Linked DNA regions of Homo sapiens. The protein of the gene in region 5 purifies or fractionates together with the protein of the main gene of each other region. This does not show direct contact. Each region holds a gene or a part of one and is shown on either strand. Other genes may lie near its edges.

Region 1 (3,500 bases), on a different chromosome or scaffold from region 5:
AACTGAGTATCTGTTTTTGTCATCAGAAGTGGGACATTTAGGAAAGGGCAGTTGTTTTCCTGTAACAGTTTTAGTAAATATGAAAATAACCCACAATGTGGGAAGAAAACTTTGTAGACAAGCAATTAAGAAAATATTCAATAATACATTTTAATCCGATTTTCAAGTATGCTAACATTTTAGAAAATAAACGACGAAAATGGGATTAGGGCAACTGTATTTTATATCTTTGAAGCCTGAAATAGATTTGTAATTACTTCACTAATCATCACATTTTTCTAAAGCTGATGGAACAACAGCATGTAACTCTTTTGCTTTACTTTGTACTGGACCAGGCTCTCAGTGTTAAATTTTTGGAAAAAAATCATGAGTAGTGGAACATATATAATGATAATATTATATGCATTACATGAAAATAATCATAAAGAGACTGTTATGTGGCTTTCAAGGTCAGAACTTTACAAATAAATACTAAATATATGTATTGAAGTTTTCAGTGTTTACTGACAATTTTCCTAAATCTTCAGAGCCTCTGAGGTCAGTAACTTTTTCAGTTCATTAGTCATTTAATCAGTCATTAGACTGAGAAGGCAAGTTTATGCAAATCTTCTGGTTGTTTTTTGAGATGGAGTCTTGCACCGTCGCCCAGACTGGAGTGCAGTGGGGCGGCTCACTCACTGCAAGCTCCACCTCCCGGGTTCACGCCATTCTCCTGCCTCAGCCTCCCGAGTAGCTGGGCCTACAGGCACCTGCCACCACGCCAGGCTAATTTTTTGTATTTTTAATAGAGATGGGGTTTCACCGTGTTAGCCAGGATGGTCTTGATCTCCTGACCTCGTGATCCACCCGCCTCGGCCTCCCAAAGTGCTGGGATTACAGGCATGAGCCACCGCGCCCGGCTGCAAATCTTCTGTATTTTAATCATAACCATGTCCACTATATATTCCTTCGGATAACTAAAAATTAAAATATTTGGTGTATTATTTGCAAGGAGTCAAAGATGATGTCTTTTCCCAGAGGCATGAACCTTAGAAATGCTTTCGATGGGGATGTTTCTGTAACACTGTGTTATTCTGGATCTTCAAATAATAGCAAAGCCAGTTACTCTAAATGTAAAATTTTTCTATTCCCAAGGTTCACTTTTGTTTGGTAGGTTTTCACGATTTTAAATACTGTTTAATGGAAGAAAAATACGTAGCCAGGCGTGGTGGCTCACACCTGTAGCCCCGGAACTTTGGGAGACTGAAGCAGGCAGATCACGAGGTCAGGAGATTGAGACCATCCTGGCCAACAAGGTGAAACCCTGTCTCTACTAAAAATACAAAAATTAGCTGGGCGTGGTGGTGCACGCCTGCAGTCCCAGCTACTTGGGAGGCTGAGGCAGGAGAATTGCTTGAACCCGGGAGGTGGAGGTTGCAGTGAGCTGAGATCACGCAGTTGTACTCCAGCCTGGTGACAGAGTGAGACTCTTTCTCAAAAAAAAAAAAAGTGTGTGTGTGTGTGTAGAGAGTTTGTGTGTGTGTGTGTGTGTGTAGAGAGTTTATGTGTGTGTGTGTGTGTGTGTGTGTGTGTGTGGAGAGAGAGTTTATTTGGGCCAAAATAGAGGACTGCAACCTGGGAAACACATATTCAAGTTGCCCTGAATATATGTTCCCAAGTTCAAGAAACTTGAAACTTGTTTCTTTCTGATATTTTCCACCTATTTGGACCAAATAATGAGCTGTGTTTATTTTGTAATTACAAAATTTGCTTATATAAAACTACAGAGGAAAACATTTTTATTTGGGGCAACAATGAACTGCTTTTATAAATTAATTTAAAATATGGTTAATATGGTTATTCTCCCCACACCCTAACTATACACCTGTATTCACTTGACATGAACAAACTGCTTTGTGTTTGGGATTCAGGTAAAAGGTGATTTTTGCATTTTCTAGTAATAGTTTAGAAATCTTTTCATGTCAGCATCTTGAAATCTACCTCATTATTTATTTATTTATTTATTTATTTGGGAGACAGAGTCTCGCTCTGTCTCACCCAGGCTGGAGTGCAGTGGTGCGATCATGGCTCACTGCAGCCTCAACCTCCCAGACTCAAGCGATCATCCCACCTTAGCCTCTGGAGTAGCTAGGACCACAGGTGCATGCTACCACTCCCGGCTAATTTTTGTATTTTTTGTAGAGATGAGTTTTGCCATGTTGCCTAGGCTGGTCTCGAACTTCTGGGCTCAAACAATCCACCTGCCTTGGCCTCCTAAAGTGCTGGAATTATAAGCATGAGCCACTGTGCCCAGCCTAATTTTTTTCATAATTTACTTTTTCTCTGGAGCATAGATTCAAAATGCCCTGAATATATGCTCTCTACTTCATTCTTTTAATAACTATACAGTTTGCTAATGTTACGCTGGAGTATCCCAGTGCTTAAAAATATAATACACTTGGCTGGGTGCAGTGGCTCACGCCCGTAATCCCAGCACTTTGGTAGGCCAAGGTAGGAGGACAGCTTGAATCCAGGAGTTGGAGACCAGCCTGGACAACAAAGTGAGACCTGTATCTACAAAAAATGTCAAATTTTTTTTTTTGAGACAGAGTCTCACTCTGTCGCCCAGGCTGGACTCACTGCAATCTCCGCCTCACGGGTTCACGTGATTGCAGTTTTAGTAGAGACAGGGTTTCACTATGTTGGCCAGGCTGGTCTCGAATTCCTGACCTGAAGTGATCCACCCACCTTGGCCTCCCAAAGTGCTGGAATTACAGGCGTTAGCTGCCACACCAGGCCCCAAAAATGTAAAAATTAGCTGGGCATTATGGCATGCACCTGTAGTCCCAGGTACCCAGGCACTTGGGGGCACAGGTGGAGGATTGCTTGAGCCAGGGAGGTCAAGGCTGCAGGGGGCTATGAGTGTGCGACTGCATTCCAGCCTGGGCAACAAAGTGAGACCCTGTCTCAAGGCAAAAAAAAGAAAAAAAGGGGGGCGGGGGCTGGGTGTGGTGGTGGCTCACGCCTGTAATCCCAGCACTTTGGGAGGCCAAAGCAGGTGGATCACTTGAGTGCAGAAGTTTGAGGCCAGCCTGTGCAACAGGGCAAAACCCTGTCTCTACAAAAAAATGCAAAACTTAGCCGAGAGTGGTGGCATGTTCTGTGGTCCCAGCTACTGTAGAGGCTGAGGCGGGAGGATCACTTGAGCCTGGGAGGTCAAGGCTGCAGCGAGCCGTGATTATGCCACTGCACTCCAGCCTGGGAGACAGAGCAAGACTCTGTCTCAAAAACAAAATCAAACAAAAAAACACACCACTTATTTGAAATAAAATACTGTAATTGGCTCTTACCTGCCCAAGAACTAAAAGGTCACACAAAATTTGAATAGATCTTTTCATGTATATTTCTTAGCCACCTCATTAGGAAATGTTTTAAAGCTGAATTATATTTTGTATCTGGGATCCCATTTATAGCCCTAGAGATGATGTTATTCTTCTGAAATACTAAAAGAGGCCAGCTGT
Region 2 (4,137 bases), on a different chromosome or scaffold from region 5:
AACTAACCCTTAAGGAATAAAAAAACGATAGAGTGGACTTCATTAAAATTAAAATTTCTGTTCATCAAAGGACACTATCAAAAAAACGAGGCAGGGCATGGTGGCTCATACCTGTAATCCCAGCACTTTGGGAGTCCAAAGTGGGTGGATCGCTTGAGTCCAGGAGTTCAAGACCAGCATGGGCAATATGGTGAAACCCTATCTCTACAAAAAAATACAAAAATTAGCTGGGCATGGTGGCATGCAACTTGTATCCCAGCTACTCCAGAGGCTGAGGTGGGAGGATTGCTTGAGCCCAGGAGGTTGAGGCTGCAGTGAGCCATGATCACACCACTGCACTGTAGCCTGGGCAGTAGAGCAAGACGCTGTCTAAAAAAAAAAAAAAAAAAAAAAAAAGAAAAGAAAATGAAAAGTTAAGTCACAGATAAGAATAGTCATATATTCACAAGGCATTTATGTGAGAAAGCTCTTGTTTTGAGACAGTATAAAGAACTCTCAATTAAACAAGACAAATAATCTGATTATGGGCAAAAAAAATTAGAAGATACTTTTAAAAAGAACATATATGAATTGCTAAAAAGCAAGTGAAAAGGCACTCAACATTATTAGTCATCGGTAAAATGAAAATTAAAACCACAAGATACTATTTTACACACACTAGAATGGTTCAAACTAAAAGGACTGATAATACTAAATGTAAGTCAAAATGTAAAGTAGTTGAAACTCATTTTTTTTCTGGTTGAACGTGCAAACTGGTACAATCACTTTGGAGAACTGTTTGGCAATTTCTCACAAAGTAACATGCACATCTATCCTATGACCCAGAAATTTCACTCTTAGGTACTTACCTAAAAAGAAATGAAAATGTATGTCCAAAAAAAGATTTATACAACAGTGTTATGACAGCTGTATTCATAATAAGCAAACTCCAGAAACAAGAAAAACATCCAGCAATAGGAGAACAGATAAATGAATTGTGGTATATTCATACAATGGAAAACTTAGCAAGAAAAAGGAATGGACTACTGATATATGCAGCCACATAGATGGAACGTGAATCTGAAAAATATTATGGAAGGAATGCAGCCAGAAACAAAAAAGTATATATTGTATGAATCCATTTATAAGTAGTTCAAGAAATGGCAAAACTAAGTCCAGCAAAGTTAGGTTTCTTTTTTTTTCTTTTTATTTTTTATTTTTTGAGACGGAGTCTCTTTCTGTTGCCAGGCTGAACTGCAGTGGCGCGATCTCAGCTCACTGCAACCTCCGCCTCCCGGGTTCACTCCATTCTCCTGCCTCAGCCTCCTGAGTAGCTGGGACTGACTAAAGGTGCGCGCCACCACACCCAGCTAATTTTTGTATTTTTAGTAGAGACAGGGTTTCACCATGTTGGCCAGGATGGTCTTGATCTCTTGACCTCGTGATCCGCCCGCCTCAGCCTCCCAATGTGCTGGGATTACAGGCATGAGCCACCCGGGTACCTTGCCTAAACAAAGGAGAGTAGTCCAAGGGAACTGTGAAAGGCCCCTGCATGAGAGGAAGGGAGGGTTTGTTGTGTGTGTGTGGTTTTTGTTTTATTTTGGTAGGGTTTGGGTTCCTAATTACTCTACAAGGTGCACCAGAATTGGAGATATTTGTCCAAATTCATAAATTTTGAAAGAGAAAAAGAAATACATTCAGAGTACTATTATTCCCATTTCAAGATTGAAGAAATTCAGATTAAATTATTCTAATTTCGTGAGGAAGCTAGCATTTGAACTCAGTTCTCACGCCATATTCCAAATTGCCACACCAGATATCTGGCAGATTTAGGGAAGAGGAAAAAATTAAGCATCAATCTACCTGTGGCACCGTGTAATACCATTCTCAGGATTTTAACTTCTAACTTACTCTCTTTGAAACAGCGATCACAAAGGAATAGACAAGGGGACCACAAATCATTAAAACTGCTGTCAAACAAAATAGAGAACATTTTTCCTAAAAGTTATTTGTGTAGCGAATAACAAGTTTGACGTTCTCACTGGAAGGAAGAATATGAATAAATGAACGAGCTCCAGTAAGAAGTCTACAACCTGTCTTAGTGGTTCACTAAACTCACGTTTATTGAATGATTGTGTGGTTTCTCTGCAAAGAGCAGTTTTGGACGAAAAGACCCGAGGTTATTTACAAAACAAGAAGCTCACATAGGAACTGATCCAGTAAGGAGGATCCCGAAGAGAGACAGACAAATCATTTTTTGCATTGTTTTGTTGGAAACGCCGGGCACTGCCAACAGTGTTTTACATCACTGTTCCTCAAATTTTAATGTGCATTTGATTCCTGGAAATCTTGTTAAAATATAAGTTTTGATTCCATAAGTCTGGTGTGGAGCTGAGACCCTGAATTTCTAAAAAGCTCCCCAAAGATACCCACACTGTCAGTAGGGGTGGGAGTGGCGGAGCCGACTACAGGGGAAAGCTTCACTTTGAGTGATCGAGAGGCTCTACGCAACTGGAAAGAAGAAACTCAAAATCCCTCGTACAGAGAGAGACTCACCAGCCCCCGACCCCCGGGCAGCAGTAAAGCGAGCTGGGCACTGCGCCTAGAATCCCAGTTCTTACCCCAGGATCAGAAGCGCGCTCTGCAGCTGTCCCCGCACCTCCAGAAACACGCGCGTCTCCGCCGCAGAAGCCGCCATGGCAGGCTTCCAGTCCCAGACCGGACCAAGCTGGAGGTTCCGAGGGGCCCGGGTCAACAGGACCAGGAGAGGTTCCACGTGCGGACCAACCAGCGGCAGCCCCGCTGCGGCGCAGGCGCCTGTGCCAGATCGCAGGGCTGGCGCCGCCTACCAGCTCACAGCGCCACCTGCCGGCCGGAGAGTGCACCACCGAGAAGGCGCGTGACCCCGGAGGCCGGGGCGGGGCGCGCATTTTCAAAACCAGGCTTTGGCCCAGAGTGCTGAGAAAGGTGGGCGGCGAGAGGCTAGCTATCGCCCCACTCTGCTTCTTATGAGCGTGACTTGGCGCGTTAGCATCCCTGGAAATGACCATAAAAATCAGACCCAGGGTTCACACCTTTGGCTAGCTCGAAGGGAGGGAGATGATGGAGGCAAGTGTTACAGGTGGGCTTTGTCCCCAGGAGATGCAAGAACAGAATTCCCGGCCCCAAACCCACTTTATCTTGGTCTCTTTATGAACAAGGGTCGTTTGTTAGCCTCTATCTAAAGCGACAAAATTTTCAAGAATTGACTTGCCATTGCTTCTCAACTTAGACAGGATAGCTCCAAAATTGAAACAGGTGCAAAAATATAAGGAAGTTCTTTGTTACCTAATGCAGAAGAGTGTGGCTGAAGTCTATCAGGACTAACCATTTTTTAGGGGGTAAAAAAGGAAGATGAGAATGATTACGTATGTACAGCTCCACTATTCACTTTCACAAAAGTAAAAACTAAGAGAAGTTGGAGAAGTTTACTACCAGAAGATAGTTTTGAAAAGTTTGACACAGTAAAGAACCTGGTATAATGTAAATACTTATAATGAAGAACTATTAAAATATAAGACCGGGTAGAATTACAATAGGGCTTCTTAAAAACAAGGAGCTGCTTTTATTTATTTATTTTTTTTCGGAGTCTCGCTCTGTCGCCAAGGCTGGAGTGCAGTGGCGCGATCTCGGCTCACTGCAACCTCTGCCTCCTGGGTTCAAGCGATTCTCCTGCTTCAGCCTCCCGAGTAGCTGGGATTACAGGCGCACGCGCCACCATGCCCGGCTAATTTTTCTGTTTTTGGTAGATCCGCCCACCTTGGCCTCCCAAAGTGCTGAGATTACAGGTGTGAGCCACCATGCCCAGCCTAAACCATAAATAAATTCTAAATAAATAAATCCTGTCATATATTTTAAGATAATAGCTTGACAATTTTTCTAAAATCAGTATTTGGGGTGATTAAAGTTTATTATGTTGATGCACAAATTATTATATCTATCACAATAATTTGAAGTTATAGATGGAAGCAACAACTCACTTAAAAAAATAAAGTTTACTATTATTTGGTCTCAAATAATTCATCTATTTGAAGGATGATGATTTCAACTCTTCATATCTTCCACCTTTAGTACCCGAGGCTATTGAATGCTTAAATATTGACACATTATATTGAAATA
Region 3 (3,500 bases), on a different chromosome or scaffold from region 5:
TATAGCCAACCCAGACACGTAACCACACCAGTCACACAGACACCACTCCACAAATTGACACACACACCCAGCCAATCCAGGCACATACACACAGTCACCGATTTACACAACAGACATGCAGCCACGACAAGCAGCCACACACACACAGGCTCCTCAGACTCATAACCATGGGCATCCAGATACACACCCACACAGCCACCACAGCCACACACACATGTACCGGCCACACACACACAACCATTTGGGGCTAACAGAGACACCAGAACCCCAGGCTGACACACATGGTACTGCCTCCCCCCATGGGACCTGTGCACAGTCAGGGCCACAGCACGCGGCGGTGGTGGCTAGCTCAGGCTGACTGACACACTCTGACATGCAGCTCCTCTCTTGCCTGCTCCCCTCGCTGGAGCGGCATCTCCATATTTCTTCCTCTTGCTTCCTGTCTCCTTCACTCCTGGCCACCCCCACTCACCCCTACCCCAGATAATTGATGGCCCGGGCCTGGCCCGGCCGCTCCTGCCTCTCGATCCATCTTGTCCTCGAGCCCATGCTGTCTCCAAGATCGGTGGCCACCTGAGACACATAGAACGGGTGGGAGCAGGAGGGGGCTCCTTAGCCCCCTTGGAGCCCAGGAAAAGAACGGCCAGGCGGCCTCCACCAGAGTGGAGCACTGGCGACTGGGAGGGATACCCAGGCTTTCCTCCTCTGCTCAACTGGTTCCCAGCACTCACTCCTTGCAGGCCAGTTGGGGCTGAGGCCCAGGTGGGGGCTCTGGTCTCTGAGGTCCTGGAGCCTCTTTCTTTTTCTTTTTCTTTTCCTTTCCTTTTTTCTTTTCTTTTCTTTTTTTTCTGAGAGGGAGTCTCGCTCTGTCGCCCAGGCTGGAGTGCAATGGTGCGATCTAGGCTTACTGCAACCTCCACCTACCAGGTTCAAGTGATTCTTCCACCTCAGCCTCCCCAATAGCTGGGACTACAGGCGCACCCCAGAACGCCCGCCTAATTTTAGTAGAGATTAGGTTTCTCCATGTTGGCCAGGCTGGTCTCGAACTGAACTCCTGACCTCAGGCAATCTGCCCACCTCAGCCCCCCAAAGTGCTGGGATTACAGGCGTGAGTCACCGCGTGTGCCGGGCGGGAGCCTCTTTCTTGATGCTGGATGTTAATGTGGTCACAGCCTCCCTGGCTCAGTTTGCTCAGAGTCCAGTCCCTCCCTGGCTCATTACTGGAACCAACCAGGTGCCGGGCCAGGAAAGATGAGCCAGGATCCAGAGCTCCACTCCCTACTCACCTTCACACTGGCTTTGGGTTTTTGGCCCTCATTGGAGCTCTGTGGGCCACATCAGGATTCTTGACGTCATTTCACAGATGTACAAACTGAGGCCCAGATCCATGAAGTGACTGGGCCAAGACTACATAGCTTGAAAGGGCTGCAGTTCTCCTCCAAGGCACGCTCCCTGCCCGCTGCGGGACTGCGTGATTCCATTTGGTCTCCTAGCGGCTGTGGAAAGGGACTGGCGTCGATAGGGCTCTGGCAGGATGGCGGGGGACAACCCCAGCGTCTCTCTCTCCTCTTTCTTCGTGCACAGGCCGTCAGTGCCCAGATACCAGAGTCCGGAAGGCCGCAGTACCTGGGGCTGCGCCCCGCCGCGGCCGGAGCGGGTGCCCCCGGCCAGCAGCTCCCAGAGCCAAGGTCTTCGGACGGCCTAGGCGTGGGCCGCGCCTGGAGCTGGGCCTGGCCGACCAACCACACGGGGGCGCTGGCCCGGGCAGGGGCAGCCGGGGCGTTGCCCGCGCAGCGCACCAAGAGGAAGCCGTCCATCAAGGCGGCGCGCGCCAAAAAGATCTTCGGCTGGGGGGACTTCTACTTTCGGGTGCATACCCTCAAGTTTTCGCTGCTGGTGACCGGCAAGATCGTGGACCATGTGAACGGTACCTTCAGTGTGTATTTCCGCCACAACTCGTCCAGCCTGGGCAACCTCAGTGTCAGCATCGTGCCGCCCTCCAAGCGTGTCGAGTTCGGAGGAGTCTGGCTGCCCGGGCCTGTCCCCCACCCTCTGCAGTCTACGCTCGCCCTGGAGGGGGTGCTTCCTGGGCTGGGGCCCCCGCTGGGGATGGCAGCAGCAGCGGCGGGGCCCGGGCTTGGGGGCTCCCTCGGGGGCGCACTGGCGGGGCCGCTTGGGGGCGCGTTGGGAGTGCCTGGGGCCAAAGAGTCACGCGCTTTCAATTGCCACGTGGAGTATGAGAAGACAAACCGCGCGCGCAAGCACCGACCGTGCCTGTACGACCCGTCGCAGGTGTGCTTCACCGAGCACACGCAGAGCCAGGCCGCCTGGCTCTGTGCCAAGCCCTTCAAAGTCATCTGTATCTTCGTCTCTTTCCTCAGCTTTGACTACAAACTGGTGCAGAAGGTGTGCCCAGACTATAACTTCCAGAGTGAGCACCCCTACTTCGGATAGCGCCCCTCCCCAGCCAGTCCTGAGCCTCCCGCCAAATCCCAGCCTCACTAGGTGGGACCCCCTTCCCAGTGTTCTGCCGCTCCTGTGGCCATGTCGCCCACTCCTTCCACTCTGGGGGCGGAGGGGAATGGCTTCTCGGGACCCTCAGCTAGCGTGGGTGCCCTTTTCCTTATGCGGAGTGCCCGCAAGGCTGGGGTAGCCCCCTCCAGTACACCCCAAAGTGAAAGGGATAAGAGTGCAGCCCCAGAATAGGCGGGGCTTGGAGGCGGTCCCAATGTCCCCTGGGTCCACAGTGGGTCCCCTTTTCACCCTTGGCGCTAGGCTGCGCACTCCCTTTCCCCGCAGCTTTAATAACTCCTGGCCTGGCACCCTCACCCCACCCTGACTTTCCCATCCCCCAGCGCTTGTCCTGCTTCACCCTACCCCGCCTAAGACTGTAAAGGCCTAAAAACCTCGGCCTGTCCTCCCACCATTCTGCCTGCCATATGCCTGTCCCCTTTTCCTCCAAACCCTATTAGGGTACCGGAAGCAGAACCCCTGGGCTGAGGCCCTGGCCCTGCCCCCGGCCCCTGCCCCTGCCCGCCCCCCTCCAGTCCAGGCAGTCGAGCTCCACCTGCCCTCTCCTGCTGCTTCCTCTCGGTGATATTTTTTCTACGCCAAAACAGACGGGAAAGGGAACAAAATAAAGTGAAATCCAATACACGCCTGTGTGAGACCTTTGTAGGGAATGGGGAGGTGGCGTGGGGCTTCTATGTGGTAGAGACCTGGCCAAGGCCTTCTCCCTCAGCGGCTCTTGGGGAAACCAAGACAAAGACTGACAGAGCTAGCACCTTGGAAGTCACCAAAGACCAGATCAAAGAGAGCTGAGGGTTACCCTCGGGGTAGGAGCCCCGCCTGAGGTTGGGATTCTCCTCCCTGAGGTGGGCGAAGGGAAGCTGCAGCAAGTGGGATGGAAATGAGACCTGAGTGGGGATCACCAGCGGACGATTTGGGGAAGGAGGTGTAAGACCTTGAATGGGATGGACAGGGACAGTGTAGGCAGAGCG
Region 4 (3,500 bases), on a different chromosome or scaffold from region 5:
GACCATAGTTACTAAAACAGCATGATACTGATATAAAAATAAGCACATAAACTAATGGAACAGAAGAGAGAACCCAGAAATAAAGTCAAATACATACAACCAACTGATCTTGGACAAAACATTCAAAAACATAAATTGGGGAAATGACACCCTATTTAATAAATGGCACTGGGAAAACTGGATAGCCACATGTAGAATGAAACTGGATCCCTACCTCTCACCTTATACAAAAATCAACTCAAGATGGATCAAAGCCTTAAATCTAAGACCTGAAATGATAAAAATTCTAGGAGATAACCTGCGAAAAACTCTTCTGGACATTGACCTGGCAAGGAATTTATGACTAAGACTCCAAAAGCAAATTCAACAAAAACAAAAATAAATAAATGGTACCTAATTAAACTAAAAACCTTCTGAACAGCTAATCATCAGAGTAAACAGAAAACACAAGAATGGGAGAAAATATTTGCAAACTATGCATCTGACAAAGAACTAATATCCAGAATCTACAAGAAACACACACAAATCAGCAAGAAAAAAACAAATATCTCATCAAAAAATGGGAAAATGGCATGAATAAACATTTCTCAAAAGAAGATACACAAATGGCCCACAAACATATGGAAAAATGCTCAACATCACTAATCATCATGGAAATGCAGATTAAAACCACAATGAGATACCTCCTTGCCCCTGTAAGAATGGCCATTATTATAAGTCAAAAAACAATAGATGTCGGTGTGGATGTGGTGAAAAGGAAATATTTATACACTGCTGGTGGGCATGTAATTTAGTATAACCTCTATGGAAAACAGTGTGGAGATTTCTTAAAGAACTAAAAGTAGATTTACCTTTGGTTCCAGCAATCCCAGTACTGGCTATCTACCCAAAGGAAAAGAAGTCATTATGTCAAAAGACACCAGTAAACATATGTTTATTTTAGCACAATTCACAAATGCAAAGATATAGAACCAACTTCAGTGCCTGTCATCCAATGAGTAAAGACAATGTTATATATATATGTAAAAAAATATATTATATATATATTTTACACAAACACACACCATGGAATACTACTCAGCCATAAAAAAGAACAAAGTAATGTACTTTGCAGCAGCTTGAATGGAGGCCATTATTCTAAGTGAAGTAATTCAGGAATGGAAAATCAAATACCGTATGTTCTCACTTTTAAGCGAGAGCTAAGCTGTAGCTACACAAAGGAACACAGGGTGGTATAATGGACTTGGAGACTCAGAGTGGGGAGGGTGGAAGGTGGATGAAGGATAAAAAAACTACATACTAGATAGAATGTACACTACTTGGGTGATGGGTGCACTAAAATCTCAAACCTTGCCACTATACAATTCAACCATGTAACCAAATACCCTTGTACTCCAAAAGTATTGTAAATAAAAATAGGTTCCCCACCCTGTGTCCAAGTGTTCTCATTGTTCAATTCCCACCTATGAGTGAGAACATGCAGTGTCTGGTTTTCTGTCCTTGTGATAGTTTGCTCAGAATGCTGGTTTCCAGTTTCATCCATGTCCCTTCAAAGGACATGAACTCATCCTTTTTTATGGCTGCATGGTGGGGGTAAGGGGGAGGGATAGCATTAGGAGATATACCTAATGTAAATGACGAGTTAATGGGTGCAGCACACCAACATGGCACATGTATACATATGTAACAAACCTTCACATTGTGCACAGGTACCCTAGAACTTAAAGTATAATAATAAAAAAAAATAAAATAAAATTAGGTTATTAAAAAAGAGGAGAATAGGTAACATGCTGAGGCATGTCAGAAAGAAGCAAGTTCCCTTTGAATTGCAGGAGACTTTATAAAAATGGTGACATGTCCAGTAGACTGATAAACTGGCAGCAGCTTAAGGCCCATTTAAACAAAGCTCTCGAAAGATGCTATCTTTACTTATTAAATCATAATTCTGAAAAACAAATAAAAAACAATTAAAAATGATCCAAAAGTTCCACAGGAATAAAAGCCAGTTGTAAGAACTGAAGCCAGAAAGCTTTGTATAGTAGTGGTTAAGAACATACATTTTGACCTAGAATAGACCTAACTTCAACTGTTGACTCTGCCAGTGACCACTCTTGTGATGTGCAAGTAACTTGTCTTTTGCAGCTCAGTTTCCTCAAGTGTAAAGTGAGTAGAATAGTAGTAATTACTTCATAGGTTTGCTTCATAAGGAAATCTTTGTAAAGAGTCTAACTCTGATTTTCGGACATTTGTCAAGTTACCAAGCTTAGGCTGCCATTTTTAAACTGTCAAATGAGGTGGCAAAAATCCTACAAGCTTGAAAGATTTTTAAAAAACTACTTTCTGAAAGTACTGAGAGACACATGCACTCCTATGTTCATTGCAGCACTATTCACAGTAACAAACATGGAATGCCCATCAATGGTGGACTGCGTAAAGAAAATGTGGTGAACATACAGCAAGAAATACTACGCAGCCATAAAAAAGAACAAAATCATGTTCTTTGCAGCAACACGGGTGCCTCTGGAAGCCATTATCTTGTGCAAATTAACACAGAAACATGAAACCAAATACTGCATGCTCTCACTTAGAAGTGGGAGCTAAACATCGAGTACACACGGACGTAAAGACGGGAACAATAGACACTAGGGGCTACTAGTAGGGGGAGAATAGAAGGAGGCTGAAGGTTGAAAAACTGCCTATTGGGAACTATGCTCACTACCTGGGGGACAGAATCATTTGTACACCACCTCTCAGTGACATGCCGTTTACCCATGTAACAAACCTACACAATGTACCCTCTGAATCTAAAATAAAATTTTTAAAAAAGAAAAGATGTATTTAATTTGTCTTCAAATTTGGTATGTAACTTGTATGAAAGAAATTTTAATCCAAGCAGATTTTGTAATGAGATAATGAAGAAATTAAAACTACAGGTGACACTGTGCTGTTGCTCTCTGACCCAGTGGAAGTCTACATATGTGTGAAAATGAATACACCTTCTCTCTCCAGGTTGCAATGGTTCAGTTCACTGATGATCCCAGAACAGAATTTAAACTAAATGCTTACAAAACCAAAGAGACTCTTCTTGATGCAATTAAACACATTTCATACAAAGGAGGAAATACAAAAACAGGTATGACCAAAAGAAGCCCAGCTAAGGCTCAAAGTAATTCATTATTTGTAACTACTGAAATGACCTTTTATTTTAAGGCATAGTAATTTTTTAAAGATTTTTTTTTTCATTAATTTAAGAACTTTGTTCCCACCCTTTCTTCTCCAGAAAAACAAAAATGGGAGGGAGTGAAATCAAACTGTTGCCTTTCTTTGTTTCAGGAAAAGCAATTAAGTATGTTCGAGATACCTTGTTCACTGCAGAGTCAGGTACAAGAAGGGGCATCCCAAAGGTTATCGTGGTTATAACTGATGGAAGATCACAAGATGATGTGAACAAAATCTCCAGGGAGATGCAATTAGATGGTAAGATATATAAACAATAGTGG
Region 5 (4,258 bases):
CTCAAAAAAAAAAAAAAAAAGGGCTATCGTCCACAGATGCAGGTCATCTCCAGCCCTAGGTTATCGGTTAATGACCGAACCACATCATGGCTTAGCAGAGGGTCTCCCTCGGGGCTGAACGTCCTCGCAGTCCAGGCCGTCCTTGCAGGCACCGGCATCATGTTACATTGTGGAATGTATTGCTGTTGCACATTGTTCCAAAACATCCCTCCAGCTCATACTATTTCAACAGGCGCTTTCTCTAGGCCCCCAAAACAGAGAGTACTACTGGGAACAAATCAACATCTTTCACTCCAACACTGCGTTTGGTGCCCCGTAACAATGACCTCCTATCAGCAGGAAGTAGCCAGAAAGATTATAATGCCCCATCCCCCCATGATTCTCATAAGAAATAAATATACAAGCATGATAGCAATCATGCATAATTTGACAGTGGGGATTGTGGCAGGCCAGGTCTCACTAACGGCTGAATAGGCCGGCCTCCACGACAACTGTTTCAGCACTGACCGGGTGGTGAAGTCAAATATTAAAAGCTGAGAGGGCCAGCGCCCTTCAACAGAGGCTGGAATGTAACAAAAGCCCACCAAGAGTTTTGCCCAGGCCTCTCCTGGGCCTTGAAGCATGACAAGATAACAAAGGAATTCTTAACAGGACCCGTTTAGGATTAAACAAGTTTTACTGGGGTCTAAAGGAACGCCCCAAACCTCCATGATTTAGCAGGAGAAAAGATAAGGGGAATCACCCCAGCACCTGGACCCCTCCAGATTAAGTAAATTTACTGAGGCTCCAGAGGAAGTTCTTCAGGACTCAGGCCTTAATTATAGATTAGAAGAAGTTCATCACTGTGTCTTTAGCTGAATGCACACTTACACGTAGACCTACAGCTTCGAAGATATATAAGCTCTGGAAAACTGCAATTTTGAGCTGGTCTAGTGCTATTTTCCCGGGCTTCTGCCTGTACCCGGTGACAGAAGCAAACTCTCTTATTTCCCAGCTCGTCTGCATCTCGTTACTGGGCTGAGAGAATAAGGAGCGAATAAGCGCCCGGCCGTCGGTTGAGTCTGGGGACGCTGTGACTCACCATTGGCTCCGGCCCCAGACGCTGTGCTGGGGAAGGAGCGGGAGGGGATGGGAGGGGAACAGGGACACCCTGTACTCCACAGACACAGCCACCATGGGTCCTCTTGCAGGCTGAGAGAGAGGCTGTCCCCTGCATTTGGGACAAGGTGCCTGCCTCCAGTGAGGGGACAGCAGGTTCCTTTGCCCATGGATCCAGGAAGCTCCCACAAGGGAGTGGGGTGATCTTCCCCAAGGTAGAGAGGGCAGCAGCCTCGGGGCCTTTGGCTGCATGCCCAGTGGGCACAGGATGTGTGTGGACGGGCCACAGAGTGGGCCGCCCTGCAGGGCTGGAAGCCGCAGGGCAGCAGGGTATAAAGGGGGTGGGCCGAGGGCTGAGGCGTCCACGGCAAAGATGGCTCTGCTTCTGCTGAGCCTGGGGCTGAGCCTCATCGCAGCCCAGGAGTTCGATCCCCACACCGTTATGCAGAGGAACTACAACGTGGCCAGGGTGTGTCTGCGTTGGGGTCTGTGGGGAAGGGGCCAGGCTTCAAGGCACCTGTCTTCCCCCAGCCTGGGGTCTCTGACCTGTGACCAGGGCAACTGGTCCAAGGGGAGCCCACCTCTCCTCCCCAAGCTGTGACAGCAGCCTGGGAGAGCAGGGGTTACTCCGGGAGGGTCGGGTGGGAGAGGCCTGGGAGAGTGACTGGGGCCCTGAGAGGTTAGAGGGGGCCCTGGGAGGGCAGAGGGGAAAGCTGGAGAGTGGAGTGGCGGCCAGCAGGGAGATGGGGGCCCTAAGAGGACAGAGGGGTTCCTAGAAGTATAGGGGAGACCTAGGGAAAAGAGGGGGACTCAGTGGGAAAGGGTGGAGCGGGGGACCTTGAGAGGACAGAGGGGGACCTGGAGGGGCAGAGGAGAGACCTGTGGGGCAGAGGGGGCCCTGGAAGGGCAGAGGGCATTCTGTGAGCAGAGGGGGGACCTTGGGATCAAAGGGGGGATCTGGGGACATAGGGGAGACCTGGGGGGCAGCGGGGGCCCTGGAAGGGCGGAGGGCATTCTGTGAGCAGAGGGGCGACCTTGGGGGTAAAGGGGGGATCTGGTGACGAGGGGAGACCTGGGGGCACTGGAAGGGCGGAGGGGTTCTGGTTGGGAGCCAGATGCTAAGGGGCCGGGCCCTGGGAGGGAAGACTGTGGGCGCTAAGCATCCCCAGGGCTGTCCCGCGGCCCCCCACCCACTGGAGCTCTTTGTCTTCAGGTTTCAGGGGTCTGGTATTCTATTTTCATGGCCTCAGATGACCTGAATCGGATTAAAGAAAATGGAGACCTGAGGGTCTTCGTCCGGAATATTGAACACTTGAAGAACGGCAGCCTAATATTTGATTTCGAATACATGTGCGTGTTGCCCATCTCAGCTGGCATCAGGAAGACCCATGCCCCTGCCACCCCAACGCATACTCTCACTCTTGCACACACACGCTCGCACACTCACTGACTTGCACTCTGGTGAGAGCCTGAGCCTGTGCGTGTGACCCTTGGGGGCAGGGTGAGGTGGGAGCAGGGACTTGGTCTGCCTGGCACTGTGCTCTTCCCTGAAACATAGAGATGAAATCGCCCCCTTCCAAGGCTGGGGTGAGGTTCGAGGAGATGAGGGTGTCCGGTGGGCTGCAGCAGGGCCCAGCCCAAGAACTTGGGGCTGTGGAATGAGGCCTGGGCATTGGGAGGGTGAGCCTGTGCCCTGGAGGAGGGGTGCTCTCTGCCATCGCACGTCCAGGGGGCTGGAGCTCCACTCCCGGCATCTTCCTGGCTGGCTTCCAGGGTGCAGGGGGAGTGTGTGGCTGTGGTCGTGGTCTGCGAGAAGACAGAGAAGAATGGGGAATACTCCATCAACTGTAAGTGGAAGCCAGGCTCCTCCTGGTCTCACAGTCGGGGGTCTCCTTTCTCCAGGGCCTGGGCCATATTCTGGTGAGCACTGACTCTGGGGATTTTAGTTAAGCCCCTGACAGCTTGACCCTGAACTGGAGGGACCCATCCTGGCACCTACCCAGGGGGGCTCCTGGCCCAGGGGAAGCAGGGAGGCAGGTGTGTCATGCTGAGCTCTGGGGGGTGAGCCCACTGAGGGGCCACCAGGGTCTGCAAGCCAATGACAAGGAGGGAGGGGGCTGTGCCGCTGCTGCCCGCCCCCTGTGCAGGGGTCTCCGCTGGGTGAGCACCGTGGGCTCCTCCCCTCCCGCCTCAAAAGGCCACTTGACCCCCCATCCTCACTTGCGGCCACACAGCACGTGTCACAGGACCCTGAGGGTGGCGGGGCCAGGCCACGCTGAGCCATGTCTCCACGCAGATGAGGGCCAGAACACAGTGGCCGTCTCGGAGACTGACTACAGGCTGTTCATCACCTTCCACCTCCAGAACTTCAGGAACGGGACCGAGACCCACACGCTGGCGCTCTATGGTACCTCCGCTGTCCCCCTCTGACCCCCTCGGGGACCCCACCTCCTCTGAAGTCCGGCCCAACCCTGGGCGGAGGAGGGTCTCGCAGTGGCCCTGGGGTTTGGAGAGGTGGTTCCCGTTGGCTATTCCTTCCCACAGACACACCGTTAGGGTGCTGGGTGCTTCAATCTGTCACCTCCCATCTCACTTGGCACAAAGCCCCTCTCTGGTCAGGGCGTGACCCCCTGCCCAGCCTCAGCACTTCCTGAGCACCCCCAGCAAGGCCCAGCTTCACACAGAACCAACTCTGTTCCCAGCACGGGTCCCATAGCTGGAACCCTCCTTCCTGAGCAGATTTGAAGAAACCTGCGAAAAGTACGGACTTGGCTCACAAAATATCATCGACTTGACCAACAAAGGTCAGCCCCACTGCTCCCGGACCAAGCGGGAGCCGGGACAGGGTGGGGATGGGAGGTGTGCCTGCGGGGTCCCTGTCCCTGCGCTGAGAGCCCCCTCTGTCCTTCCAGATCCCTGCTACTCCAAGCATTACAGGAGCCCGCCCAGGCCTCCCATGCGTGAGCTGCGACTCGGGACGGGCAGGGGGCTGGATGGGGAGAGCTTGGGGCCAACGTCAGAGGCTGCGGGGTCCCACCCCAGGAGGTGCCCATCCCTCCCCCTGGTCTGGGAACCGAACACAAGGTGCTTTGGTGAAAGATGCTGTGAAAAGCATCCTGGAGTCGGGGCAGTGATGGGGCCTTCCAGGGTGGTAAGGTCT
Region 6 (3,500 bases), on a different chromosome or scaffold from region 5:
GAACCGGGAGGCGGAGGTTGCAGTGAGCCAAGATCACGCCACTGTACTCCAGCCTGGGGAATAGAGAGCGAGACTCAGTTTAAAAAAAAAAAAATACATAAAGTGAAAATTCTTTGAATGAGGGGTTTCACAGGTTCCCAGAATGACGTGATTTTATAGCCCATCTTTCCCTTTATAGTGTGGATTCTTTGACAGAGCCAGACCTCCTCAGGAGGACATGACCGACAGGGAACAGCTGACAAATGACAAGACCCCTGAGGCATGACAAGAAAAAAAAAGAAGACCAAAGACCTCAAACACTGGTCCTGTTCAAAGAAAAAGAAAGAACATGAGGGTTAAAAATCAAAGCTTTCTGATACCTGACAGTGACCCAGGAAATGGAGGGGACCCTGGAAACATCACCTCATCTACACCGCACTTTGGAGAAATTGTCCTGGGTGCCCAGTGAGCCCTGTTGGAAAAGGAAACACCAAAGCTGGAGAAGCCATCAGCAATTGTGGAAGATTTTCTTTTGCTTTAATCGTTCTGTACTTGGCAGACACTTTGAAATGCGTATGGGAACGTAAGTTGCAGTCCAGATCAATCCAGCATAAGTTGCAGAGATGAAATGTCTGAATCACTATAGAATTTACAAGGTGAACTAAGGTGAAATGACTGATTTACTATAGAACTTAGAACTAAGACCACACCATCCAACACTACTGTATCCAATGGAACATTTGACACCTCCCTATGGAAAAGAAACATTTCTAAGGACATTATGGCTCAGGGAGACAAGCAATATGTTGTTGGTACTGTGAAAGTACTTTTGAAAGGACAAAAATAATCTTGTGAGTGAGGGTGAGAGTTTATTTATTTATTTTCCATGTCTCTAGGTTGAGAATCTGTCATCTAGAGAATTTGGAAATTAAGATTTGGTTAGCTAGTTTTCAAAATCACTCACTCAGTTTCCTCCTAAGAACCACTGTGTGCAGATAACTCATTTAGCAGAGCTTCTTCAGAATTTAGACAGTGCTAAGGAAAGGAAGATTGGCATTAGGAATCAGTTCTATTTAATACCTTGCTGCCTTCCATCTGAAATTCCTTTCACTCACATTATCCAGGGACTCACATCTGCTTAATTTAGCTTTGCAAGATGTTGCATTTATATTTCCTTGTATATCTTTCCATTGACTTAGTTAATACATGAATTTCGAGGTACTCTCTACCTTTGGAGTGTTTAAAAGTCATGGTAAAATGTCTAGAGTTCATTAATTAAAAAGCAATTTAACATTATGGGTAAACATTATTTTTAATATCTATAAGAAGCAACACTTCTTATAGATATTTAGCTTGGGATTAAATACCCGTTTTTCCTGCTATGCCTTGTACTTGTATACACAGAGAAAACATGTTGAATATAACTTAGACAAAAACATAAAATTATACAGGCATGAGCCAAACTGGGAAAACTGATTCCTAAAGATTTTTATTTAAAATTGCTTATTCCAACTTTATTACTTATTTTTACTGCTAATCTTTATAATATGTAACTTTGGAGAATAATCTTTTATTTAAGCTATTTTCCCATCATCTTGAATTTAACCATCACAAATTTTTTATGTTTAAAACTCTTGTAAATAATTCATAATCTTGTAATATTATCATTTTTGAAGTAAAATTGACCAGCCAAATTTATAGGTAGTCTGCACAATTTTGTATCCTTTTTTAATAATGAAAAATTACTATGAAGAAATACTGAACAAATTTTTATGTGCAATATTTTATAGACCTATGTATCTGAAGCATGTTTACACTGGCGTTTTTTTTTTTAATTAATTTCCTAAATGTTAAGTATGATAGAACAAGCTGACCCAAATCCTTAAGTTTACAAAGCTGTTGGAAAACTTTGTGTCCTGATTTCAACAATCACGCTTTGTTTGAAAGATGAGCCAAGCTCACAGACACTAAATTTTATGTCATGCCATAAGCTGGAGAGGAGCCATTTGGCTACAGCTGCGGAACTTCATTGAGGAGCAAATGAAAGGCACATGGACGAGCACGCTGGTGCAGTTCATGTTCTTCCTGCCTGTGAATTGAATACTGTCCTGGTAGCAGTTTCGGGTCGGTCAGGAGCTCAAGGCTGGTTTGTGTGGCTGACTACGGATGAGCACTGAAGTTGCCTCAAAGAATTAAGGGGTGTCCACACCAGCCTCTGGGGGTCTTTGGTGTTAGTCTTCCAGGTAGAGCTGGTTTTACAAGTAGGTGGCCATCTACAGGATGTGATGTGAGCGATGCCAGACAGCTCTCTCTGACCCCAGGTAATGCCCTGAATCTGGTGATCCTGGCTGATCTGTGACCAATAGAGATTAGCTCCTTGGGATTTGGGGTCCTAAAAGGTCCCTGAAAAAATGCACCCCTTGTCTTTAAGCCAACATTGGTGAAGGAACTGAGAACTCTTAGGGTTACATAAAAAAAGACCCCTGTTGAGATAGTTTATGCAGATACCTGGAAGGAACTAGAGATGCCAGGAGGAAGACTGAGACCCAGAATGAAGCAAGGCATGAGGGCTCCAAAGTGAACTGCACCATCCCAGAGTCTCAGCCAAGATGGCCCTTTCCTAGAGGGACGGGCACCTTCCACCTGCCCACAGGCACTGCTACCTATGGGAATTGCAGAAGGCCGTTGTACACACGCGCATGCACGCAGTGGCCCTCTGCCCTTTAGAATATGGAAGCAAAGTCTGGGTGCAGTGACTCACACTTGTAATCCCAACACTTTGGGAGGCCGAGACGGGCAGATCACCTGAGTTCAGGAGTTCAAGACCAGCCTGGCCAACGTGGCAAAACCCCATCTCTACTAAAAATACAAAAATTAGCTGGGCGTGGTGGCAGTCTCCTGTAATCCCAGCTACCTAGGAGGCTGAGGCAGAGAGAGAATCGCTTGAACCCAGGAGGCGGAGGTTGCAGTGAGCTGAGATCGCGCGACTGCACTCCAGCCTGGGCGACAGAGGGAAACTCTGTCTCAACAAAAAAATAAATAAAATAAAAAATAAAAAAAGAATATGGAAGCAAATGGAGAAAGGGAGGAAACTGAGGTCAGGCAAACCTTCCAGCAATCCGTTCTGCCCAGAGAACATACTGACGACAGAGAACACACTGAGCGTTATCTGCTTCTAGTTAGAGCATTGCCGATTGCCTTCATAATTCATAATGTGCTGTGCTCCTCTGAGGGTCTATCTGTATTTCTCTTCAAAGAATTCCCTTTTTAAATTCTTGCAGCTGGGTTTTAAGACACAATAATGGGGCAAATTAAGTTTTATAAACTTGGAGATTTTTATACAGTAAATAAAAAAATAATATGTACTAGTCACCCCTGAAACTGCATTCTTAGAACTCGACTCTTGTTTTATTTAAATACGTGCGTAGATATCTGTGAAGATTTTCATGTACCTATTTACCTTGTCACTAATAAAATTAAAACTGAAAGACTTGATGGCATACTTTCGGTTTATTTCACAT
Region 7 (3,500 bases), on a different chromosome or scaffold from region 5:
CCAGGCTGGTCTTGAAATCCTGGCTTCAAGTGATCCTCCTGCCATGGCCTCCCAAAGTACTGGCATTGTAGGCGTGAGCCACTGTGCCCAGCCTCTATGTTTTTTTGAGATAGGTCTTGCTCTGTCACCCAGGCTGGAGTGCAGTGACACGATCATAGCTCACTGTAACCTTGCTCCTGGGCTCAAGCAGTCCTCCTACCTCAGCCTCCCAAGTAGTTAGTACTACAGGCATCTGCCAGCATGCCGGACTAATTTTTTCTTTGTTTTTTGTAGAGATAGGGGTCTGTGTTGCCCAGGCTGGTCTTGAACTCCTGGCCTCAAGTGATCCTCCTCAGCCTCCCAAAATGCTGGGATTACAGGCATGAGCCATGGTGCTTGGCCTGTATCTGTATCTATAGCAAATTGATTGGGATTTGTCAAATCTGGGATTGGTTGAAGACTTAACTCATAACTTCTTTTTTTTTTTTTTTTGGGAGAGAGAGTCTCACTCTGTCGCCCAGGCTGGAGTGCAGTGGCACGATCTTGGCTCACTGCAACCTCCCAGGTTCAAGCAATACTCCTGCCTCAGTCTCCCCAGCAGCTGGAACTACAGGCACATGCCACCACGCCTGGCTAATTTATTTTTGTATTTTTAGTAGAGACAGGGTTTCGCCATGTTGGCCAGGCTGGTCTTGAATGCCTGACCTGAGGTGATCCGCTCACCTCGGCCTCCCAAAGTGCTGGGATTACAGGCATGATCCACTGTGCCTGGTCCTGTACCATAACTTGTAAGCACTAAACCTTCCAGACGACTGATCTCAGGTGATCCACCCGCCTCGGCCTCCCAAAGTGCTGGGATTAGAGGCATGAGCCACTGTGCCTGGCCCTGTACCATAACTTCTAAGCATTAAACCTTCCAGATGACTCCACATTTTCTTACTCTCACAGTCCTTTGAAGACAGCTTTATTCTAAAGACAAGGAATTTGGATCTATTCTGGGTACTTTTAAACAATCTGAAGGTCTGCAAAATTTTATCTAATTGATGCTATCAGAGTTTGTAAAGTTCACTGACATAAAAATTATACCCTGATCTACGTTCTTGACAAGATTTCCTTAAAGGTTATTCTACTTGTCTCAATTTTGTTTTTTTCTGTTAGAGGAAAAAGTTTTAAATGCCAAGCTTTTTCTTTTTTAAAAAGAGATGAGGATCTCACTATGTTGCCAGACTGGCCTCGAACTCCTAACCTCAAGTGAGCCTTGCATCTTAACCTCCTGAGTAGTTGGTAATACAGGTGCATGCTACTGTGACTGGCCCAAATGCAAAATATTTCAACACAGAATAAACTAAATAAAAATGGATTCAGCCAGCTGTGGTGACTCATGCCCAGCACTTTGGGAGGCTGAGGCAGGTGGATCATCTGAGGTAAGGAGTTTGAGACCAGCCTGGCCAACATGGTGAAACCCTGTCTCTAATAAAAATACAAAAATTAGCCAGGCATGGCAGTGCACACCTGTAGTCCCAGCTACTCGGGAGGCTGAGGCAGGAGAATCACCTGAACCCAAGAGGCAGAGGTTGCAGTGACCCGAGATCGTGCCACTGCACTCCAGCCTGGGAGAGTGAGGCTACATCTCAAAAAAAAGGATTCAATTTTTTTTTTTTTTTTGAGATGGAGTCTCACTCTGTCACCAGGCTTGAGTGCAGTGGCGCGATCTCGGGTCACTGCAACCTCTGCCTCTTGGGTTCAAGCGATGTTCGTGCCTCAGCCTCCCTAGTAGCTGGGATTACAGGCACCCACCACCACGCCCAGCTAATTTTTGTATTTTTAGTGGAGATGGGGTTTTACCATCTTGGCCAGGCTGGTCCCCATCTCCTGACCTTGTGATCCGCCTACCTCGGCCTCCCAAAGTGCTGGGATTACAGGTGTGAGCCACCGTGCCCAGCCGGATTCAATTCTAATATGCTTTCTTTTTTCTTTCTTTCTTTCTTTTTTTTTTTGTGAGACAGAGTCTTGCTCTGTTGCCCAGGCTAGAGTGCAGTGGCGCGATCTTGGCTCACTGCCAGCTCTGCCTCCTGGGTTCATGCCATTCTCCCGCCTCAGCCTCCCAAGTAGCTGGGACGTCATGCTTTCATAAATATCCTCCACGTAACTGTTAACATAGTACAGTACAAGCATCTGACAGTTTTAAAATAATTTTGCTAAGATTGTGTGCTTATGTCTTGTAACTTTGTATTATTATTTTTTTAATTTTCAGGGGCGACAGCCAGTTTTGTAGTCAAAAAGCAGTCATCTATTCATTGAATTTTACAGCAAACCCACCTCAAAGAGTATTTGAACTTGTTGACCAGATTAATCCATCTATTTTCTGCATTCATATTACAAACTGTAAGTATTTGACATTGATATATTTTGTGAAGCTCTGGAAAATTTTTCTCAAAGTTATGGAAAAATGTGTCAGATTTATTTTATAATTATGATTATGGTTTTTTTGAGACAGAGTCTTGCTCTGTCACCCAGGCTGGCGTGCAGTGGCGCAATCTCGGCTCACTGAAACCTCCACCTCCCAGATTCAAGTGATTCTCCTGCCTCAGCCTACTGAGTAGCTGGGATTACAGGTGCCTGCCACCATGCCTGGATAATTTTTGTGTGTGCGTGGTTTTTTTTTTTTTTTTTTTTTTTTGAGACGGAGTTTCGCTCTTGTTGCCCAGGCTGGAGTGCAACGGCTCAATCTCGGCTCATCACAAATCCTCTGCCTCTTGGGTTCAAGTGAGTCTCCTGCCTCAGCCTCCCAAGTAGCTGGGATTACAGGCATGGGCCACCATGCCTGGCCAGTTTTGTATTTTTAGTAGAGACGGGGTTTCTCCATGTTGGTCAGGCTGGTCTTGAACTCCCGACCTCAGGTGATCCACCTGCCTTGGCCTCCCAACGTGCTGGGATTACAGGTGTGAGCCACTGTGCCCAGCCCTATTATTACTATTTTTTCTTTCTTTCTTTTTTTTTTTTTTTTTGAGGCAGAGTCTCACTCTGTTGCCCAGGTTGGAAAGCAGTGGCACGTTCTCAGCTCACTGCAACCTCTGCCTCCCGGGTTCAAGTGATTCTCCTGCCTCAGCCTCCCGAGTAGCTGAGATTACAGGTACCTGCCACCACACCCAGCTAATTTTTTATTTTTAGTAGAGACAGGGTTTCACCATGTTGGCGAGGCTGGTCTCAAACTCCTGACCTTAAATGATCCTCCTGCCTCGGCCTCTCAAAATGCCGAGATTACAGGTGTGAGCTGCCTTGTCCAGCCCTCAGTTAGATTTAAAGCAATTATTCTGTTTTGCTATATGTATAGTGTATATCTTTAGAGACCATTTCACAGGTAATAGGAAGTAACTTTATAGACCTGTGGGCATGCACATTTTCTTTAAAAGTAATTATGATTGTGTAGTTGTCTTTCGAAACCGTATACTTATCTTAAAAGTGTTTATAATATGCAGACATACATAGGAATCTAGGTTTCTATATATACATGTGTTTTT

The links.
Region 1: the proteins of LCN9 (region 5) and DNAAF2 purify together in Homo sapiens (affinity purification with mass spectrometry; one large-scale study listed by BioGRID and IntAct). This does not show direct contact.
Region 2: the proteins of LCN9 (region 5) and UBE3D purify together in Homo sapiens (affinity purification with mass spectrometry; one large-scale study listed by BioGRID and IntAct). This does not show direct contact.
Region 3: the proteins of LCN9 (region 5) and NXPH4 purify together in Homo sapiens (affinity purification with mass spectrometry; one large-scale study listed by BioGRID and IntAct). This does not show direct contact.
Region 4: the proteins of LCN9 (region 5) and COL14A1 purify together in Homo sapiens (affinity purification with mass spectrometry; one large-scale study listed by BioGRID and IntAct). This does not show direct contact.
Region 6: the proteins of LCN9 (region 5) and ITGA8 purify together in Homo sapiens (affinity purification with mass spectrometry; one large-scale study listed by BioGRID and IntAct). This does not show direct contact.
Region 7: the proteins of LCN9 (region 5) and TCTN1 purify together in Homo sapiens (affinity purification with mass spectrometry; one large-scale study listed by BioGRID and IntAct). This does not show direct contact.

The regions. Positions count from the first base shown.
Region 1 is NC_000014.9:49,628,745-49,632,244, reverse strand, and holds part of DNAAF2 (protein kintoun), read left to right. Parts: intron 1-3,500. UniProt on the Homo sapiens protein: Required for cytoplasmic pre-assembly of axonemal dyneins, thereby playing a central role in motility in cilia and flagella.
Region 2 is NC_000006.12:83,063,042-83,067,178, forward strand, and holds the start of UBE3D (E3 ubiquitin-protein ligase E3D), read right to left. Parts: upstream 2,801-4,137; 5' UTR 2,678-2,800; coding exon 2,601-2,677; intron 205-2,600; exon of another isoform or gene 112-204; intron 1-111. UniProt on the Homo sapiens protein: E3 ubiquitin-protein ligase which accepts ubiquitin from specific E2 ubiquitin-conjugating enzymes, and transfers it to substrates, generally promoting their degradation by the proteasome.
Region 3 is NC_000012.12:57,223,294-57,226,793, forward strand, and holds the end of NXPH4 (neurexophilin-4 precursor), read left to right. Parts: intron 1-1,584; coding exon 1,585-2,454; coding exon of another isoform or gene 2,455-2,653; 3' UTR 2,654-3,156; downstream 3,157-3,500. UniProt on the Homo sapiens protein: May be signaling molecules that resemble neuropeptides and that act by binding to alpha-neurexins and possibly other receptors.
Region 4 is NC_000008.11:120,275,102-120,278,601, forward strand, and holds part of COL14A1 (collagen alpha-1(XIV) chain isoform 1 precursor), read left to right. Parts: intron 1-2,383; coding exon of another isoform or gene 2,384-2,398; exon of another isoform or gene 2,399-2,831; intron 2,832-3,009; coding exon 3,010-3,133; intron 3,134-3,333; coding exon 3,334-3,477; intron 3,478-3,500. UniProt on the Homo sapiens protein: Plays an adhesive role by integrating collagen bundles. It is probably associated with the surface of interstitial collagen fibrils via COL1.
Region 5 is NC_000009.12:135,661,851-135,666,108, forward strand, and holds the start of LCN9 (epididymal-specific lipocalin-9 precursor), read left to right. Parts: upstream 1-1,458; 5' UTR 1,459-1,471; coding exon 1,472-1,567; intron 1,568-2,311; coding exon 2,312-2,448; intron 2,449-2,871; coding exon 2,872-2,945; intron 2,946-3,394; coding exon 3,395-3,505; intron 3,506-3,800; exon of another isoform or gene 3,801-3,837; coding exon 3,838-3,893; 3' UTR 3,894-3,902; intron 3,903-4,010; 3' UTR 4,011-4,258.
Region 6 is NC_000010.11:15,513,923-15,517,422, reverse strand, and holds the end of ITGA8 (integrin alpha-8 isoform 1 preproprotein), read left to right. Parts: intron 1-178; coding exon 179-265; 3' UTR 266-3,469; downstream 3,470-3,500. UniProt on the Homo sapiens protein: Integrin alpha-8/beta-1 functions in the genesis of kidney and probably of other organs by regulating the recruitment of mesenchymal cells into epithelial structures.
Region 7 is NC_000012.12:110,624,129-110,627,628, forward strand, and holds part of TCTN1 (tectonic-1 isoform 1 precursor), read left to right. Parts: intron 1-2,233; coding exon 2,234-2,364; intron 2,365-3,500. UniProt on the Homo sapiens protein: Component of the tectonic-like complex, a complex localized at the transition zone of primary cilia and acting as a barrier that prevents diffusion of transmembrane proteins between the cilia and plasma membranes.